Regions from separate parts of the Homo sapiens genome. Here all the other regions are linked to region 1. The links come from fine-mapping of genetic effects on gene expression. A gene starts in region 1. Each other region holds a variant in brackets. All regions are shown on one strand. Distances are from middle to middle.

Region 1 (5,176 bases):
AGTCTGCAGGACAAGCAGGGACACTGCCCAGGTCTCCCCGGGCCACCTACTCCAGGGCTGGTCTGAGAAAGCTGAGGGCAGGGCTTTCGTCCTCTGGCTGAAATCTAGGGTGCAGTGCTGGTTTGCTTCCTGGGCTCCAACCCTGGGAGAAAAGGGAAAGCTGGTTTCTAGATTCTGTGTAATAATTCTTCACAAACAGATATAAGTAGAGCAGGCCAGGAAACGAAGGGGGCTGAACGAACAAGCCCACCGGGGGTGGCCCAAACATAAGCGCATCCCTGGATCTCTCCTGGTGCTTGGAGCCCTGACCCACCGGACTACAGAAAGCCCAGACTGTGGAGTGACCCCAAGGGCTCCCTCAGGAGGCCCCGCAGGAGCCCTGGGAAACCCCATGCCGGGCCTCACCCAGTCAAGAGCTGTCCCCAGCTCTGTGGCTGCCCTGCCTGGGAGGCTGCTGCTGGAGTGTCCTCCTCCTGCTTCCAGCTCTCCAGCTGGGAAGCACCATCACCTACATCCTTCAGACAGATCACCCCCTGCCCCCGTACGAAAGCCCACGGGCCGTCGTGGCTGGAGGGGTGCTGACCCAGGGGCCGGCTGGCCCCGCCTCGTCCTGCACTGCCAGCCTCCTTCTTGGGACATCTTCCTGGGGATCCCCCTCAAGTCCCTTTCCAGAACACGTCCTTAGTCCAACGCACAGGTGCGTAAATGTCTGAACTCCAGTGATGAGGCCGCAACCTTTCCCACAGGATCCCTGGGCCCCATGCAAAAAAGGGTTTGGATGCACACGGGTCTCCACATCCAGAACATTCCATGATGGCCAAGGAGTGCAGGAACATGGAACATGCTAAGGCAGGGAGCCAGTCATTCAGGACACACAGATGACATCGGTGCAGGGGAGCAGGGCGGGGAGAGGGGATGCCAACCTGACACCCCGACGTCCAGCCCCAAATCCTATAAGGTCTGAATTTATACGGCGAGGGCGCAGAAACAGATCAAAACGTACCCGGAGTAGGTGAGGCTCGTTAAGAGTCGCCTCCTGAGCGTCTCTTCTGAAGCTTGCTTGCTGCCATCTTCCCACCACCCCATCCCGCTGGCCTGGGAGCGGGAGGACTCCAGTGTGGCCTTGGCCGGCTCCCCGCAGTGCTAGGCCCTCAGCTGGTGTTCGTTCTGTTAATGAAGCCCTTGCCTGCTGTCTCCCAGCTCCCCGTGCTCCCCAAGGGCAGGGTCCTTCTGCGCCCGCTGCTGTCCCCATGCATCATGGGCCACAGCACACAGGAGGCCCCGAGATGCCACCTGCCATCCTCCGCAGCTGTAGACCTTCCCTCCTGTGCACATGAGAAAGGTCAGCCTACCTGCTCACGGAAACCGCCGTTTGCTGGGTGTCTTTGACTCTCATCTTCTTAGAATTTCAGATAAACACGCTTCCTTCACAAATGCCGACGGTAAAGTGACGGTCACTCCACATAGCAAATGCAAGGTTGCCGTTAACGGGGTGCCCATCACCACCAGGACAAAGCTGCAGCATTTGGTAAACTTTCCTGCAGGCTCACAGAATGTCCTAGGTCCCCCCCAAGAGCTGGGAGGGGACAGTCATGTGAGGTGCCCACATCACAGACGTGGCAGGATGGGGCGTTCACACCAGCTCCTCTGCCACCATGGCTTGGGGACAACATGGCACCACTGCTGGAGGGACAGGCCTGCTCCTGACTCACTGTGTGGTCTTGGGCAAGTCACTTCACTCCTCTGACCTCACCTGGAAAACAAGGAGGGCTGAACTAGGTGTTCTCCAAGGTCCCTTCCAGCTCTAACATTTTGTGCCATTTTAGATTTTTCTAAGAGCCTGTCACTGAGAGGGGTTGAACAGCATCTTGCAAACATCGCTGCCTCTTCCTCCCCAATCTGCCAACCCTGGGGCCCCTGCCAGCTTCCCAGCAGCCCTCTCCCCTCCCTGGTGGCCACAGCCTTTCAGACAGGACAGGCAGATGGGGATTGGCCGCTCCCCATTTGGAAAGCCCCCTCAGTGACCTCCCTCGGCCTCCTGTCCCTGGCCACACTGCCCTTCTTTTGGTTGTTCAGCAGCCGTCTCTGCCTCACCAAGACTTACCGCCCAGGAGGGCTTAGCTTGGGCATCACGCCTCGGAAAAGGCCGTCTGTAGCCTGTAGTCTGAGTTAGGTCCTGGTGTCCCCTGCAGCCATTGCTGCACTCACCCAGACCAGCCTGGAAAGCGTGGAGGGAGGGCCTGGCTCTGGGTGGTCCCCACAGAACCCCAGGGCCAAGGGAGTCACGCCCTCAATGTGTGCAATGAAGGTGAACGCAGGAGCCAGAGGCCACCTCCCTCCTGTCTGCGTCTCTCCCTGTCTGGGGGATTCCTGAGGGGAGGACATTCCTCAGATCCTTCTCACTGGGGAGGTTCACCTCACCCTCCTTGGCCTCGAACCCCTCCTGAGCCCACCGTCTCCTCCCCAGGACCGCCTGATTTTGGGATCCAACAGCACCTACCTGTACGTGGGGTTTCCTTCGGAGTGGGGCAGTGAGGACCTGAGCAGGTTCGATTACGACTTCTTCCAGCTGGAGAGGGCGGCTGCGGAGGGAGCGAGTGCAGACAAACTCGGTGAGCCCCCTCCTGACTGCTGGCCTCTCCCGTGTGCTGATCTGAGAGCAGCGATTTCACACTGTGTCTCTCTGCTTTCCTTAAGAACATCATCATTTGTTTTGTCAAAGTCTGATGTTTACAAAATTGAATTATGATTTCCATATAGAGTGACTACATGGTAAACATTCAACTCGTTAAACGTTCCCTGAGGAATGAGGGTAAAGATGGTTCAAAGGGGTAGAGAAGAGAGTGGGGTACCCAGCAAATGAGAGAAGAATGCTGAGCTGGAGAAGCCAGTTAGTGGCCTCCGGCCGCCCCCAGGGGCCTGCTGGGCCTGCAGAAGCAGTGGCCCAACTCCAGAGGGGCCGGCTGGGGCCTGCTGTGGGCTGCAAATGCGCGGCCCGGAAGAACGTGCAGCCCGAGGCCTCTGAGACAGAATCTCCCCTCCTCGCCCGAACGCAGCCCCCAGCAGTAGCCCACGCGGGCCGCCCGCCGCTGCCGGTCTCTGCTGGGGCTTTCGCGCGCCTTCCCCGCCCCTCTCCCCGCCCCGATTCACCGCGCTCCGGGCGGCTCCCCCAGAATCCTGGCCAGGCCGGAGCCCGCTGCGATCTGAGTGACCTGCGGGCTTCCCGGAGGGGCCCCACGCTTTGCTCGGCACCGGGACTCTGCCTGAACTCGCAGTAATGAAACCGCTGGTGGAAAGTGGGCAGATCCACCTGTGTGTGTGCAAGAGCTCCTCCCTGTCCCCACACCACAGTGTTTCTCTCAGAATTTCAGCAAAATAAATCGATTAGAAATTCACCTCCTTGCTCTTCTTCTGCTGAAGTTTTCGACTTTTAAAAATGAACAAGGCCGGGCGCGGTGGCTCACGCCTGTAATCCCAGCCCTTTGAGAGGCCGAGGCGGGCAGATCACGAGGTCAGGAGATCGAGACCATCCTGGCTAACACAGTGAAACCCCGTCTCTACTAAAAATACAAAAAAGTAGCCGGATGTGATGGCACACACCTGTAGTCCCAGCTACTCAGGAGGCTGAGGCAGGAGAATTGCCTGAACCTGGGAGGAGGAGGTTGCAGTGAGCTGAGATCGTGCCACAGCACTCCAGCCTGGGTGACAGAGCGAGACTCCATTTCAAAACAAAACAAAACAAAACAAAACAACGAACCAGTAAGACTCTGTCATACCAGGCCCGGAAAAGCCATCTGTTCATTGACCTGTCCTCAGAGGTTGACCGTGCCACTGCCCCTGTGGCCCTGGTGGCGCCATGAAGCTGAACCAGCCCCAGACCCTGGCTCGGACCCTAGGGAAGACTTGGGTCCCCAACAAGGCAGCAGCTGTGTGAGCAGTTTGGGGTCAGACCTCAGGGCCAAGGGCACTGTGTGCACCCACAGGCCAGGGGTCTCTAAGAGTTGAGATTTCCTGATTAGAGGCAGTACCAGCCTGGGTTTGGGAGGGAGATTGATCCTCCCATAATCTCCACGAGCCCCTCCTTCAAGCCACCCCAAGTATAAGAGAAGCACAGGTCACTTGCTGTGCCAGCAGCAGCTTGAGGATACCTCCAGGCCTTCCGTCTAGCCAGCCATGTTTCACCTCGCCCCACCCTCCTCCAGTCTGGAGCCACCTTGGGTCAAGGACCCTGAGACCAAGAATGGGAACTGGGGGCAGAGGACCTCCTGCCTGCGGCCAGGATTCATGGGTCGAGATAAGCAACCACGTAAGGAGAAGCCAGGCAGTGTCATTTTCCCTTGTTTGTTTTTAAATTACATGCTTGTAATTTTAAAATGTAGATATTTGATGAACAGCTGAACAAATGAATGAACAAATAAGCATACACATTTATTCATGGCGGCTGGGCGTGGTGTCTCATGCCTGTAATCCTAGCACTTTGAGAGGCCAAGGCAGGAGGATCGCTTGAACCTGGGAGTTCAAGACCAGCCTGGGAAACAAAGTGAGACCTCATCTCTACAAAATATTTTAAAAATTAGCCAGGCATGGTGGCTTGCACCCGTAGTCCCAGGTACTCAGCAGGCTGAGATGGGAGGATTGCTTGAGTCTGGGAGGTGGAGGCTGCAATGAGCAGAGATCATGCCACTGAACGCTAGCCTGGACGACAGAGCAAGACAGCTGTCTAAAAAAAAAAGAAAAAGGGCTTGGCATGGTGGCTCATGCCTGTACGCCTGTAATTCCAGCACTTTTGGAGGCCGAGGTGGGCAGATCACCTGAGGTCAGGAGTTCGAGACCAGCCTGGCCAACATAGTGAAACCCCATCTCTACTAAAAATACAAAAATTAGCCGGGTGTGGTAGTGCGCACCTGTAATCCCAGCTACTCAGGAGGCTGAGGCAGGAGAATTGCTTCAACTTGGGAGGCAGAGGTTGCAGCGAGCCGAGATGGCGCCACTGCACTCCAGCCTGGGCAACGAGAGTGAAACTCTATTTCAAAAAAAAAAAAAAAAAAAAATTCTTCATGGCGGAACAAGTGACTGACTTTCGCCTCCACTGTGATTGTTGCCAGGTGCTGCGGACGGTGGAGACGGCAAGGCGGGCCCCAGTGTCCTGGCTGCGTTCCAGGACTACATCAAACTG
Region 2 (5,176 bases), 11 kb before region 1:
GGCCCCTGGAGCAGGGCAGGGGCTTCTCACTCACCCCTATCCTGAGGCTGTGGTCCTAACTTTATGGGATCTTAAGGCAGCATGAGAGAGAGAGGCAAGAAAAGACCCTAAAACTACCCCCCAAACCTATCTGCACACTGTCAGGCCTGGCACCTCCTTCCTTGAATTGCAGCTCATTCTCTACACACAAACTATGGTAGCCTGCAGGCTCTTCGAGTTTTCCTCGCAGGTGTGGGTGTGTTTGTTCCTCAGACCTGGGCTTCCTCCTCTAGGTTATGGCTTCTCTACGGTTGATTTCGGAGGAGTCAGGCCCGTGGTTAGCTAGCTTACTCCAGCATCGATGACAGAAGGCATCTCTACTGTTGGATATGATCGTCAGGCTTATGGGGCCAAAGAGGGGATGTGGGAGCCATTTCCAACTCATCCCACGGGAGGTGGATTTCTTCTTGAGGCATTCTTTTTCTGTCTTGAATCTTCTTTTTCTTTCAGTGTTCTGGCTGACGCAGCTATGGGGAAGAAGGTCTTGCACATTCCATACAGAGATTCTGTTCTGACCAAACTGCTCCAGTCAGCTCTGGGTGGGAACAGCAGAACCGCTTTGGTAAAATAGCTTTTCTTACAACATTTCACACGGATTCTGCTATTATAGTTGTTGTTGCTGTTGTGATTAAATTATTCCCAATACACCTGTCATATAACACAGGACTTTGCATTGACCTAGCCTAGCAATTTTTTTTTTTTTTTTTTTTTTTTAGACGGAGTCTCGCTGTGTCGCCCAGGCTGGAGTGCAGTGGCGCAGTCTCGGCTCACTGCAAGCTCCGCCTCCCAGGTTCAAGCGATTTTCCTGCCACAGCCTCCCGAGTAGCTGGGGCTACAGACGCATGCACCTGGCTATTTTTTTTTCTTTTTAGTAGAGATGGGTTTTCACTGTGTTGGCCAGGCTTGAACTCCTGATCTCAGATGATCCACCTGCCTCGGCCTCTCAAAGTTCTGGGATTACAGGCATGAGCCACTGCACCTGGTCTTGTTTGGTTTCCCCCTCAGGACTAACAAATGATGACCTACCATTATCTTGTAACTTCTGGTACTCTAGTACAATGTTCAAACAATGTTTCTGTATTACTAATTTTTAAATTTATTCTTTTCTGTAGTTTAAGTTCTCTACAAGGAATATATGTTACTTTTATTATCAGGAAAAAAACTAGTACCATTAAAAAAAAAAAAACAACTAGCAATGTCATGTTATTCTAAGTTAGCAGTCATCCCCGGCAAGGCTGGAAATCAGTGTGACTGTGTGTTCACCCTGGAGAGCAGCTGCACCGCGTTATCTCAGCAAAGGCTCTGGAATCCCATTATTGAATGTTTGCCAAGTGGGTACAGTGTGGAATGTGTTAAAATCAGGACTCTGCTCTTCTGCTTCAGCTGCAGGGAGGGACAAAATGGGGTGAACTCTGCCCCCAGCCTGGCGCTGGCCTCCACTCTGCTGTCCTGCTTAGGAGAGAAATGCTCCCTGTCGGGACCAGTTACATGCATTTCTCTCCAAAATCCACAGTAAAACACAACCTTACTCTTTATCACTCAATCCTGACCAGTTTCAATACTTCATTTTAAAGTTTTTCTGGTTGTCAGTTACCTGTGGGCCTCAACAGGACATCTCCCCAAAAACCTGGGACACAAGAAGGCCTGTAAGATGCTCTTTGAACGTTAACCTACAACATTCAACCTAGCGGGTCTCAGCAGATGTGTGCCAAGCCACCGAGACGCCCAGACCTGCAAGACTTGACAGGGGCTGCCTGAGGGCAGTGCAGTGCTTTCACAAAGGAGCGTGCTTGGGAGAGGCCGAGGGTGGGTATCCATCATCTCAGGAACCCACAAGCTTTAACAAAGGAGTGTGCTCAGGAGTGGCCGAGGGTGGCATCCATCATCTCAGGAACCCGCAAGCTTTAACAAAGGAGCAGGCTGGGGAGAGGCAGAGGGTGGCATCCATTATCTCAAGAAGCAAAGAGAACAGAGAACCTGCAAGGCCGACAGCCAAGCTCTCCAGTCTCTATGGCGCCAATCCCAGTTTTAACACAAATGTCTTACAGCCTTAATTTTTAGTGGTGATAAAAATCCACCTGAAAATATTGCCATGATGATTAAATGAGATGGCGTAACCGAACAAGCTTTAAAAGCTGTGAAGTTAGACAAATGTAAATAATTACTTCCTGGGCTCCCAGAGCTCTGGGTCCC[G/A]GGCCTCCCAGCCCACAGAGGATGTGCTGCCACATGGCAGCTGCCACAGCCACCCTCAGCCACCCTCCCCAGCCATCCTCAGTGACCTGCCCACCCAATCATCACTAAGTTTGCTTCTGAGTTGAAAACTTTTCTGAATTCTGGAACAATCAATCCAAAGTCAAGGCCAGGCACAATGGCTCATACCTGTAATCCCAGCAATTTGGGAGACTGAGGTGGGCATATCCCTTGAGCCCAGGAGTTCAACGCCAGCCTGGGCAACACAGAGAGACCCTGTCTCTACAAAAAACACAAAAATTAGCCGAGTGTGGTGGTGCATGCCTGTAGTCCCAGCTACTCTGGAGGCTGAGGCAGGAGGACCACCTGAGCCCAGGAAGTCAAGGCTGCGAGCCATGATTGCTCCACCACACTCCAGCCAGGGTGACAGAGTGAGACCCTGTCTCAAAAAAATGTAAGTATAAATAAAGTCAACAGCCAGGCTTGAAACCATACAAGTGGCTGTCACAAAACGAGCAAGGTCTCTGTGAGACTAACATTCAACCGTCACTCAGGCCCCTGAGGGAGTCCACGGAGGACTCAGTCCCAAGGGCGGTCAGTCTCACAGCTGGCAGCACAGGTATGAGTTAGGCAGGGGTGGGTTCGAGCCCCAGCTCAGCAAGTGGCCTCAGGCATTCCTCTAAGCCACCATTTCTAAACTGTAAATTTGGAACAATATCATAAATTACAAGATGCCAAACTGCCCTGTGAATACGAGCTGCTTTAATAACAATAAACTCCTCTATAAGTAACAAAGTCTGAAAGGGCTGTTTTCACAGATCGCAGCCGTAAGTCCAGCTGACATCTGCTATGAGGAAACTCTATCAACATTGAGATATGCGGAAAGGTACGTCTGTGAATATTTATCATCCATGGTGGTTCTACGTTCTAAATCTAGCAAAGTCTGTCAGTGCTCTTAGACTGCAGGGGTTGCCATTGGGAAGGGGGTCCAGGAGGAAAACAAAACGACCTGAGAGAGAGGAATGAAAGGAACTAAAACACGAGGGAAAGAATGGAGACCCGGAGCCTCAGGGCAGGGCTGTGTCACTGGGTCCTGGATGGGAGCAGAACTGGGGGCTCAGGGATGGGGGCGGCACGGATGCTGGTCCTGATGTGATTGGTTTGATCTGTCCCTGTATTTTCCTGCCGAATAGCACGGCTATTCACAGCTTTCTCCTTTTGTCACACAGGGCGTGGTGCCAGACAAGGGGATTTTTGTGCTAATGACAAATGAAGATGAGCTCTGTAAGCGACAGCGCCTCGGTCAGAGCCACTCGCTGGGCAGCCCTGCAGCCCCTGCACAGACCAGCTCTCCACACTGTCAGTTACCGCACTTCCCAGGGTCCACTCTGCACACTGCAGTCTGTGGAGGTGGCCTGATGGCCGCAGGAGTCACCAGGGAGGGAGGGGCTGTCACTGCCAGGTTCCTTCCCACCCACCTGGCTGGGAGACAGGTCCACTTGGTCAGCACTACGGGAGGCTGTCACCAAGCCGAGTTCCTGCTCCTCGGCCTCTGCAGCTCGTACCAAGTCTGCTCTCCTGAACCTTCTAAGAAAGGGAGGTGTGGGGAGAGGAGAGTCTGTGGCCATGGTAGGACCGTCCCCACATGCTGCCTACCCCTCCTTAGGCGAAGGCCGGCCTTGGGAATCCACCAGCCCAGCTCCCCACCGAGTCCGGGCAGGAGACTGGGACTGTCAGGCCTGGTTCTGGGCAGCTGGAGTTGGCATGTGAGGTGAAACTTACTTGCCAGCCCTGATATGTCATTCACCAGGTCTATGGGCTTAGAGGTCAGACAGAGTCTGGCCCTAGCAGCTGTGACCACGGGCAAGAAATAGAACCTCTCCCCTATCACCTGTTACACTGAGCCAGCATTCCTCATTCACAGCGCTGGGGAGAGGACCACAGGAGGTCATGTGTGAACTGTGCCTAGCAGAGTTCTGCCTGGTGTGTGAGTGAGGCTTGGGAACTGTGGTTATGACTGTGCCACCCAGGAGCTGCCTCCCGTTCTGGTCTTTTCTCTGGCCCTCTTCTCAGCACAGCAACACTTGCATGTTGGTGACAAATGTCTTCCTTCTCATTCCTCACTGCACAGCCTCGGTATTGTGGCACACCATGAGGCATTTTCTTCCAGCATCTGACACAAGCTCAGGTTTTATGTTTATTTTCTGAGATAGGGTGTCACCCTGTCACCCAGCTTGGGGTACAGTGGCACAATCATGGCTCATGGCATCCTCAACCTCCCAGACTCAAGTGATCCTCCCTCCTCGGCCTCCCAAAGTACCAGGATTACAGGTGTGAGCCACCATGCCCAGCCCAAGCTCAGAGCTTTAGATCGAATTTTGCCTTAAGCAGTATCCAGAACGTTTGTTTTCTCCCTGCTTATCAGATGCAAATCTGTTGCTCCCAGTTTTTACACAAGAGACCATGTGATACAGAGGAAAGAGAAAATGGTGCCCGCGGCCCGTGGGACTTGTAAACTCTGATTCCATCTCCCCTGTGTAAAACGAAAGGGGTACAGTTACCAGATTTAGCAAATAAAAATACAAGGTGCTTGGTTACATTGAAATTTCAGAGAACAAGGCATGTTTTACTGTATATCCCATGCACTATTTGGGGGCATCTGTTTTCTCTGACGACATCGGAAGGAGTGACCTAGAACACCTCTGAGGCTCCTCCCAGCCTGGCGCAGGCGCAGAGCTGAGCCTCCGGACAGCCTCCAGGCCAGGAGTTAATTTCAGCAGCCACAGGGATTGGGCAGGTTCTTAGGTTAACCAAGTCAGCCCAATTGGCTGACTGTGTTCAGGTCCCAGGACACGTCAGGGGCTGAGGTCCGGGCTGGCTGAGCTGCACGTGTTTATTTGAACTGTGCAGGCGATTCAAGTCACTTTGGTCTTAATGGTTGAATGGA
Region 3 (5,176 bases), 88 kb after region 1:
GAGCTGAAGCAGCTCCTGGCTGACAGCCAGCGAGGAAACCAGGAAACCTGGGTCTTGCAACCACAAGGAACTGAATTCTGCCAACGACAAGAATGAGTTTTAAAGCAGATTTTGCCCGGAGCCTCCAGATGGGAACTCAGCCTGGTCCGCAACTTGATTTCAGCCCAGACATGCTGTGCCAGGCTTTTTTATTTATTTATGTAGAGAAGGAGTCTCGCTCTGTTGCCCAGGCTGGAGTGCAGTGGCGTGATCTCGGCTTGCTACGCTACAACCTCTGCCTCCCGGGTTCAAACGATTCTTCTGCCTCAGCCTCCTGAGTAGCTGGGATTACAGGCGCGTGCCACCATGCCCAGCTAATTTTTGTATTTTCAGTAGAGATGGGGTTTCACCATGTTGGCCAGGCTGGTCTCGAATACCTGACCTCAGGTGATCCACCCACCTCAGCCTCCCAAAGTGCTGGGATTACAGGTGTGAGCCACCGCACCCAGCCAGCAGTTTTCTAATTCTATTGTTCCTTCTGTATTTATCAGCTGGAAGTTGGGAAAATAATTTCTTCATCAACTATTTGTTTACTCTGAAATATTACTGCTAAGGAAAAACAGGAAAAAATACCTGATTTTTTCTTTTTACCAATTTTCAAGATGATAACAGATCAAGTAATATTTTTAGAATCATTATAAACTAATGGGTTTTTATTTGTTTAATATGTTTCAATACATCACAGTCAAAATTTTTCTTGATATTCAAATTGTCCCATCTTTGGCCACTAGTATTCCCTTCAAGTTAGCATCTGTATTCTTTTTTTCTTCTTTATTGAGGTATAAAATAAATATAATAAAGTTTTAAAATACATTACCCTGAAATGTAGAAATCATTGAATTTTAATATATATACGCACCCTGCAACCACCACTCAGATCAAGATACAGGATGTTCCCAGCACCAGAGGATTTCCCTGTACTCCTTTTCATTCAGCACCATCCTCTCCAGGGGTAACCACTATTCTGATTTATTGAACTTCATATAAAAGGAATCATTCAGCCAGGTGCAGTGGCTCACACCTGTAATCCCAGCACTTTGGGAGGCCGAGGTGAGTGGATCACCTAAAGTCGGGAGTTTGAGACCAGCCTGGCCAACGTGGTGAAACCCCATCTCTACTAAAGATACAAAAATTAGCCAGGTGAGGTGGCACATCCCTGTAATCCCAGCTACTCGGGAGGCTGAGGCAGGAGAATCACTTGAACCTGGGAGGCGGAGCTCGCAGTGAGCCAAGATCGTGCCACTGCACTCCAGCCTGGGCAACAGAGCGAGACTCTGTCTCAAGAAAAGAAAGGAATCATTTGGTATGCACTCTTTTTGTATCTGGTTTCTTTCATTCAGCATAATGTCTAAGATTCATCCATATTGCTGCATATATCAGTAATTCCTTATTTTTATTGCTGTATAACACTATGCCATATGAATATAGTTTTTAGTTAAATTTTTATTCTTTTTTTCCTTTTTTTTTTTCTTTGTGAGATGGAGTCTCACTCTGTTTCCCCGGCTGGAGTGCAATGGCGCAATCTTAGCTCACTGCAATCTCCGCCTCCCGGGTTCAAGTGATTTTCCTGCCTCAGCCTCCCGAGTAGCTGGGACTACAGGTATGCACCACCACACTCAACTTATTTTTGTATTTTTGGTAGAGATGGGGTTTCACCATGTTGGCCAGGCTGGTCTCAAACTCCTGACCTCAAGTTATCCACCCACTTTGGCCTCCCAAATTGGTCGGAGTATAGGCATGAGCCACTGTGCCTGGCCAGTTTAGTTTTTTGTTTGTTTGCTTTTTGTTTTTTGATTTTTGTTTTTTTTTTTGAGACAGAGTCTTGCTCTGTCGCCCAGGCTGGAGTGCAGTGGTGCGATCTCGGCTCACTGCAAGCTCCGCCTCCTGGGTTCACGCCATCCTCCTGCCTCAGCCTCCCAAGTAGCTGGGACTACAGGCGCCCGCCACCACGCCCGACTAATTTTTTTTTTGTATCTTTAGTAGAGATGGGGTTTCACTATGTTGGCCAGGATGGTCTTGATCTCCTGACCTTGTGATCCACCCGCCTCGGCCTCCCAAAGTGCTGGGATTACACGTGTGAGCAGTTTAGTTTTTATTCTGCTGCTGATAGCTAATTGGGACACTTCTAGCTTTACTATTATGAATAAGGCTGCTCTGAACTTTCTCATACACAAGGCTTACTACTCAAGTGTACTCATTTCTCTTGGATTTATACCTAGGAGTGAAATTGCCAGAGTAAAGGGTA[G/C]GTGTATGTTTAGCTCTGGTAGATCCTGCTAAGCAGTTTTCAAAAGTGGCTGCTTCGGTTAACACTTCAACTAGTAACTGATGAGAGAAAGTTCCAGTTGCTCCCTAACATCATCAACACTTGGTATTCCCCATCCTTTTAATTTTTGAGTTGTTATGTAATGATATTTCATTGCACTTTTAATGTGTGTTTACCTGGTAACTAATGATATAGATCACATTTTCTTATGTCTTTTGGTCATTTGGATATCCTCTTTTTTTTTTTTTTGAGACAGAATCTCGCTCTGTTGCCCAGGCTGGAGTGCAGTGGTGCAATCTCGGCTCACTGCAAGCTCCGTCTCCCGGGTTCACGCCATTCTCCTGCCTCAGCCTCCCAAGTAGCTGGGACTACAGGCGCCGGCCACCACACCCGGCTAATTTTTTGTACATTTAGTAGAGACGGGGTTTCACCATGTTAGCCAGGATGGTCTTGATCTCCTGACCTCGTGATCCACCCGCCTCAGCCTCCCAAAGTGCTGGGATTACAGGCATGAGCCACCGCACCCGGCTATAATCAGAATAATTTATTATGAAAATTAAAATATTCTCAAAATGAGTAAGGAGGATTAACATGTGACATCTAATGAAACATATTGATTTAATCATGTATGGCCTCCAGCTAATTACACACCCACATCTAGCTGTGAGACACACTCTGCTGTTGCCAACTGTCATCTGCACATGTAAGTTTCCAAATTCCATAAGTGAGGTGACTCGAAGTCATAAGAGAAAACTATATTTTGGTTGCCTGATAGTGACTCTCATCTCTGCCTTCCAAGAATCTATGCAGAACTGTGAGGAATCCAGGTTTTGTTTCATCCAGACCCAGGCTTGCCACGAGACATACCTTTAGGCTGCCTGGCATGTATTAATATTCCAGGAAACGGTGCGTTATGCTGGGTTTGGGCCTTTTTTCATTCTATTTCATATACATCTGGCACATATACAAATGTAAATGTCATTTCCATAATAGTTCTTATTGAGCCAGGTGCAGTGGCTTATGCCAGTAATTCCAGCACTTTGAGAGGCCAAGGTGGGAGAATTACTTGAGCCCAGGAGTTTGAGACCAGCCTGAGCAACATGGTGAAACCCCATCTCTACAAAAATAAATAAATTAGCCAGACGTGGTGGCAGGCACCTGCGGTCCCAGCTACTCAGGAGGCTAAGGTGGGAAGATTGATTGAGCCCAGGAGTTTGAGGTTGCAGTGAGCCCAGGAGTTTGAGTGCCGTGATGGCGCCACGGCACCCCAGCCTGGGCGACGACAAGACCCTGTCTCAAACCACCCCCAACCAAAAAAACCCCAAAATAGTTGTTATTCTTTTTTTCCTATATTTTCTGTGAACCCAATAGCAGTGGTTTATGCAATATCTTTCCTAAGTCCTAGTAAGAACAAAACTCCCACAAATTACTGCAAACTAGAACATTTCAAATAAATATTCTATAATAACAAAAATGATACAAGTTGGCCAGACGCCGTGGTTCACGCCTGTAATCCCAGCACTTTGGAGGCCGAGGCAGGCAGATCACCTGAGCTCAGGAGTTCGAGACAAGCCTGGCCAACACGGCAAAACCCCATATCTACTAAAACAAAACAAAACAAAACAAAACAAATACAAAAAATCAACTGGGCGTGGTGGCGCACGCCTGTAGTCCCAGCTACTCAGGAGGCTGAGGCAGGAGAATCACTTGAGCCTGGGAAGTAGAGGTTGCAGTGAGCCGAGATTGTGTCACTGCACTCCAGCCTCGGTGACAAAGTGAGACCCTGTCTCAAAAAAAAAAAAAAAAAAGATACAACTCATAAAACAAAATGATAAATACATTGGCACACACTGTGTCACATAGTAAGGGCTGGATTCCTAAGTTAATGAAGATTATTTAGTTGTCATCTTTATGAACATAAAACATTTCATATAAAAAGGAAATATCTCATTTAATTATCAAACAACCTGTAGGATGGGCACTCCGACCCCTGTTTTTCGCGTCTGAGGCCCGTGCACTGTCCTTCCTCGCTTTGTGTTTCGTTTCCAGGGCCTCTTACCAAGGTGTCTCTCTGGTCCTCGCTGTGAGGTGGGTCTTGGTTTCTCCGGACTGAATACTTCCTTCAGGAAGGGAACTTGTGGGGTCACTAGATGGCGCTCTCCGGCTCCTCTTGCCCGAAGGCGGCGTATTTTGATTGGCTTGTGTACTTCCCGGATCAAAGCACCTCTGGGCATTTTCATAACGACTCTTCTTACTGTTTGGGCTATAAATAGCCAGTGACTCTGCTCCACACAGCGTCCCCAGCCTAAGCCCTGCTTGAAGCCCTGTTTGTCTCCCTCAGGAGACCGAGCCCATCTGTTTCACTCTCTTCCTGAGATCATTCTCAGAAGTAGATTAAGCATGTTTCTTTTTCTCTTTTTAATTTAAACTCTACTTATTCATTTTGTAGAGATGGGGGTCTCACTATGTTGCCCAGGCTGGTCTCAAACTCCTAAACTCAAGTAATCCTCCCACTTCGGCTCCCAAAGTGCAGGGATTAGAGGCGTGAGCCACCCCGCCCGGCCACCTAAGCGGTTTTTAGCCCAGCAGCAGAAACATCTAGCAAATAGGAGCCCCACTAGCCACTCCCTCATTAGAAGATGTAAGGGGCATCTATGGGACATAATCCAATATAGGCACAGAGAACCACAGTTGCTGTTTTTCCTTCGGTTGCTCCTCCCTGGATGGGCCATACAGAATTCTGTCTCCTATAGCAGGAGGCTCACAGGCACCCCGTGGGAGGGAGATCTTCTAGCATGCAGAACACCATTTGACACTTACTAACAGGTGGCAATGGATGTTGATATGAAAGAGGTTGGTTTGCCTTCGTGGTGC
Region 4 (5,176 bases), 39 kb after region 1:
TTAAATTTCTGTTAATTCCAGAGGCAGGAACAAACTTATCAGAGAGAGATTTAGTACTAAAATTTGGCTTACGCCTCTATATTGATTAGGGAAAATTCCTCCCCTCCCTAAACTTGCTCCCCACCGCAGACAAAGAACACATTCATCCCAAGGTATGGTCAAAAGACAGGAATCGAGGAAAGTTACAGATTCCTCCGATTCGTGTTAAATTAAAAAAATTAAAAACCCCTGGGGAAGTAGAAAAGAGAAAGCAATACCCTATTCCTTTAAAAGTGAGGGTAAATTTAAAACCTACAATTGATAATTGAAGGTCTTCTCTGTGACGGGCTGCTTAAACCCTGTATGTCTCCCTATAACACTCAAATTCTGCCTGTAAAGAAGCCAGATGGGTCATACTGGTTAGTGCAAGAACTTAGAGCTATTAATCAGATAGCCAAACAGACTACCGTTTCTTAGCTGTACAACTGGCCTGCTTTGCAGCTAGGGAAAACCTAGGACACATGGAGTTAAATGCTAGGAGAAGCCAGACCTCATCTGCACTTCTGTCTAGGTCCTAGGCTCTACACCTAGCACATAATTAAAATCCCAAACTTACAAGGTTTTCAACAAAAGTAAAGTTTGCTAAAAGTTAAGTCTAACATGTATGATCCTAACTTCTAATCTTGTGGCCTCAGGCAGTCTAGTCCACAGACATGAAGGCAGTGTGCTTTGGAAAAGAATGGTTATCATCTTTGACATTAAAAAAAAAGGAGAATTAGCCGGGCGCGGTGGCTCAGGCCTGTAATCCCAGCACTTTGGGAGGCCGAGGCGGGTGAAGCATGAGGTCAGGAGATGAGACCATCCTGGCTAACACGGTGAAAGCCCGTCTCTACTAAAAAAATACAAAAAAAAAAAAATTAGCCGGGCGTGGTGGCGGGAGCCTGTAGCCCCAGCTACTCAGGAGGCTGAGGCAGGAGAATGGCATGAACCCGGGAGGCGAGCTTGCAGTGAGCTGAGACTGCGCCACTGCACTCCAGCCTGGGCGACAGAGCGAGACTCCATCTCAAAAAAAAAAAAAAAGGAGAATTTATGTAAAAAGAATCTTATATGGTAAATTCTTGTCCTAAAGTAAATTAACTGGTTGTTTAAAGAAAGGGATATTTACGACAAGTCAGAAAGTTAAGGCATGTCAAAGGTCGTCTGTGAAAGTCGTGAAAAATGTTATAAAAGGGAATTTATGCAAGAAATGTCATATAATTGAAAAGTAATTAGGCCTCCTGAATGTAAAACTATTGAAGAAACAGTTTATGTGCAAGGTGTGTAAGGAAAGTAAAATATACTTTTGGTAAAAGGATTATAAGGAGGCATAAGAATGTGGATTTTTACCTACATTAAAAGGTTAAAAATTGTTTTGAAGGTTTAAGCAAGGTTTGAAAAGTTAATTGTAAAGGAAATTCTGTGTGTAAACATATTGGTTAAAGTTTCTGTAAACTGGACATTAAAATAAAAGCACAACAGGTTTTTCTTAAAGTACTAACCTGTTCTTTAACAAAAATTATAAAGGGTTAAAAAGAGTCTATAAAAAACTTATGGTCAGACATTAAAATTGGATAAATATGTCTAAAAGGTTTTATTAAAATTGAGTTTAACATTAATAGCACACTAATAGAAAGGTGACATTTAGCTGATCTGCTAATTGTCAAATATAAAATGGCATTTGGGTTTCTTTGGTCTAAAAAATTAATAAAAACAGTTGCTAAAGAGAATTCTGAAGGAAAATGGATACTGCCAGACCAGAGAGAAATGTTATCCAAACCCCTTATGAGCGAAATGTTGTTCCAGCTGCGTCAAGGGACCCACTGGGGGCCCCACGCCATGTGTGACGCAGTCCTCAGAGTTTATGGGTGCACAGGAATTTATACCCCGGCCAAACGGGTTACAGACAGTTGCTCAGTATGTAAGAAAACCAATAAACAAACTATAAAAAGATTACCCCTTGGGGGAAGGAGTCCAGGCTTAAGGCCATTCCAAAGTATCCAGATTCATTACACAGAGATGCCTCCAATTGGTCGTCTAAAGTATTTATTAGTAATAATAGATCACCTTACTCGTTGGGTACAAACTATTCCCTTTTCAAGTACAACTGCTAGTAATGTAGTCAAGGCATTAGTTGAAAATATTATACCCAGGTTTAGATTAATAGAAAGCATTGACTCAGATAATAGGACTCATTTCACTGTACATGTCATTAAGAAATTAGCCCAGGTACTGGATATAACATGGGAATATCATACTCCCTGGCACCCACCTTCATCAGGAAGAGTGGAAAGAATGAACCAAACTCTAAAAAAGCCACCTAACCAAATTAGTCTAGAGACTCGGGTGCCATGGACTAGCTGCCATCCCATTGCCCTGCCTAGAATCTGAACTGCCCCTCGGAAAGATGTTCGCTTATCCCCTTACGAAGTGTTGTATAGGTTGCCCTGTTTGCACTCCACTGCTGACATTCCCACAGTCAAAACAAAAGATCAGTTCCTCAGAAATTGTATGTTTGGTTTATCTTCCACTTTCTCGTCCCTCAGAACTATAGGTCTTTCAGCACAGGTACCCCCCCGCTAGAGTTTCCAGTACACCAACATTAGCATGAGGACC[G/A]TGTCCTTGTCAAAAGCTAAAGGGAAGGAAAACTCGAACCCGCTTTCGAAGGACCCTACCTAGTGCTTCTAAGCACCAAGACCGCGGTTCGAACAGCAGAAAGAGGATGGACTCATTACACCTGGGTCCAAAGAGCACCACCCCCTCCAGAATCATGGACAGCTATTCCAGGGCCAACTCCAACCAAGCTAAAGCGAAAATGGGTTTGAACCTCCTATACTGCATCTCTTTCTTTTCCCCTTCTATTGCTAGTCCTCTCTTTACTAGTGTAACTAGGTCAAGTTCACCCCAAACCATTACTTTTGACGCTTGCCTTCTGATGCCCTGTGAAGATTTGTCAAACCAGAGGCAAATCTACACTTTAGAAAAGTATCTTTATCCTTCCTAGCTCTCCTCAGACTGGAAATCTGTTAACTGAGATAAGTTAGTTTGGGAGGACTTTGACAAAGAGTCCAGTATGAACTGGGAATCTTGTCCTCCTAGAGCAGAGCTTCTCTGCCGAAATTTGTCCGATGCTCTATAAAACACCAAAGAGCAAGGACGGACGGCCCCAACTAGTACTTGCAGCTTCTTAAAACCATACATTCATTTTACTAAAGGAGTTTCCCCTCCCCATGGTCAGCTGAACCAATGTAATCCAGCACAGATGACGACTGCTGCTCCCCAGAGTTCTTCCCCTTCATTAGGCCATTTCTGTGGTGTAGGAGAAGTCTCAGGGAAGGACCCCATAGGATCCTTTGAAATGTACTTCATTGCCTCCTCACATCCTGCACCCCCTTCTCCCTCGTCTAAGTTCTCCACTAACCAAACTTTCTCTCATTATATACCCAATGATAAAACCTATGTAGCTACTGTAGAGGTTAAAGATTTAAAACAAACTACAGCAATTGAAACAGGGTATCTGGATGCAAATGCTTGGCTGGAATGGATAAAATATTCTGTTTGCACGCTAAACAAAAGCGACGGTTATGCTTGTGCAACAGGCAGGCCAGATACCCAAACTGTCCCCTTTCCACCTGGGTGGTTCTCTCATGACTGGGCATGAGCTGTGTGGTAGCTCTCTTCCAGAACCCTACAGCCGAGGCGATGAGTCATGCAAGACTCTTTCACTGCTGTTCCCTGAGGTCAAGAGCCTTGTGGGTCAGCCCCCGAGGGCCATGTGGCCTCCAGCCTGATATTAACTTCACCTCGTGCCTTTCACGGCAGACGGAAAAGTTAGCATTCCTTGGAGACTTAACAGGGTGCAGTGAAACCAAGCCTTTTCCAGAGCTTACCCACCAGTCTGCCCTTGTTCATCCTCGAGCAGGTGCGTGGTGGTATTGCGGGGGACTATTGCTGGGTATTCTGCAAGTAATTAGAGCAGCACTTGTGCTCTAGTCCAGTTGGCCATCCCTTCCACCCTAGCATTCTGTCAACATGATAAAAAAGAAAATCATAAAAGAAGTGCCCCACATGGGTCCTTTGACCCCCATGTTTATATAAACGCTACTGGAGTTCCATGAGGAGAACCAGATGAATTTAAATCTCGAGATCAAATAGCTGCAGGATTTAAGTCAATATTTTTACAGGTGACAATTAATAAAAACAAAGACTGGATACATTACATCTATTATAATCAGCAGTGGTTTAGTAATTACACCAGGGATACTGTCAAAGGGATAGCAGAACAATTGGGGCCCACTAGCCAGATGGCTTGGGAAAACAGAATGGTCCTAGATATATTAGCCAAAAAAGGCGGTGTTTGTGTTATGATTGAAACTCAGTGTTGTACCTTAATCCCAAACAACACTACCCCCACTGGGAGCACAACGAGCGCCTTACAAAGACTTACCGCTTTGTCCCATGAACTAGCTAAAATTCTGGAGCCGATAACCCTTTCTCCGGGTGGCTAGAAAGGTGGTTTGGTAAATGGAAAGAACTCAGCCTCAATTCTTACTTCTCTTGCAGCTGTAACAGGTGTACTCATTCTTGGTGGGTGTTGTGTCATACCGTGCATCCGTGGGCTAGTCAAAGACTTACAGATGCAGCACTAACTAAAACCTCCCTTAGCTCTCCTCCACCCTATTCAGATCAGCTTTTTCTTTTAGAGGATAAAGTCGAGCAGCAAAGCCAAGACATGTTAAAAAAAGTTTGAAGAGGAAATAACAAGAAAATTGAAAGGGGGGAAATTGTAGGATAGAATAAATTCCTCTTCGAAGGTTTCAGCCTGTAAATTGTTACGTACAATGAGTCCTGAGATCCTCTCCAAAGAACCAATGTGTCAGTTATGTTCCGCTCCCCTGTTCTTTGTTCTTTAAAGTTTAACATCCTCGTTCTTTACGTCTCCTTGACCCTAGTTTCAGTAAACAACCCCCTCCTAGCCTCTATCACCTGCTCTGATCTTAGTCACCCTTGGTCACCTGCTCTGTTCTTAGTCATCCTGAGCCACTTGTTCTGTAACTGTCCTTCCTCGTACCCCTGCTCTCTTTAAAATAGCCAATCGGAATTAGCTTAGACTGCAGTCCAACCCTAGCCAAAAGGGGAATGACACAGCAGTAGGGGCTAC

Which allele goes with the higher level. Alleles are on the strand shown, and positions count from the first base shown. SD is a standard deviation of normalised expression in the study named. Not every link is listed here.
As copies of G replace A in region 4, the expression in esophagus muscle of the gene that starts at base 2,582 in region 1 goes up (moderate effect, 0.74 SD a copy in GTEx).

The links.
Region 2: its variant is fine-mapped to the expression of LINC01341 in esophagus muscle (GTEx, PIP 0.91).
Region 3: its variant is fine-mapped to the expression of LINC01341 in esophagus muscle (GTEx, PIP 0.99).
Region 4: its variant is fine-mapped to the expression of LINC01341 in esophagus muscle (GTEx, PIP above 0.99). The same link has a PIP of 0.9 or more in fibroblasts, left ventricle, testis and tibial nerve.

Annotation. Positions count from the first base shown.
Region 1 is chr1:246,787,023-246,792,198 of GRCh38, reverse strand. LINC01341 (long intergenic non-protein coding RNA 1341) reads right to left here and starts at 2,582. Exons shown (of 2, transcript NR_015422.1): 1 at 2,501-2,582; 2 at 713-1,753. RefSeq lists a silencer at 3,262-3,341.
Region 2 is chr1:246,797,643-246,802,818 of GRCh38, reverse strand. No RefSeq gene overlaps it. Among named protein-coding and RNA genes, the nearest start is that of LINC01341, 11 kb to the right of the region's middle. The variant G/A (reference allele first, on the strand shown) is at 2,233.
Region 3 is chr1:246,698,625-246,703,800 of GRCh38, reverse strand. No RefSeq gene overlaps it. Among named protein-coding and RNA genes, the nearest start is that of SCCPDH, 23 kb to the left of the region's middle. RefSeq lists an enhancer at 4,321-4,750. The variant G/C (reference allele first, on the strand shown) is at 2,285.
Region 4 is chr1:246,747,660-246,752,835 of GRCh38, reverse strand. The region is part of intron 5 of SCCPDH (saccharopine dehydrogenase (putative)); the gene reads right to left. Among named protein-coding and RNA genes, the nearest start is that of SCCPDH, 26 kb to the right of the region's middle. The variant G/A (reference allele first, on the strand shown) is at 2,632.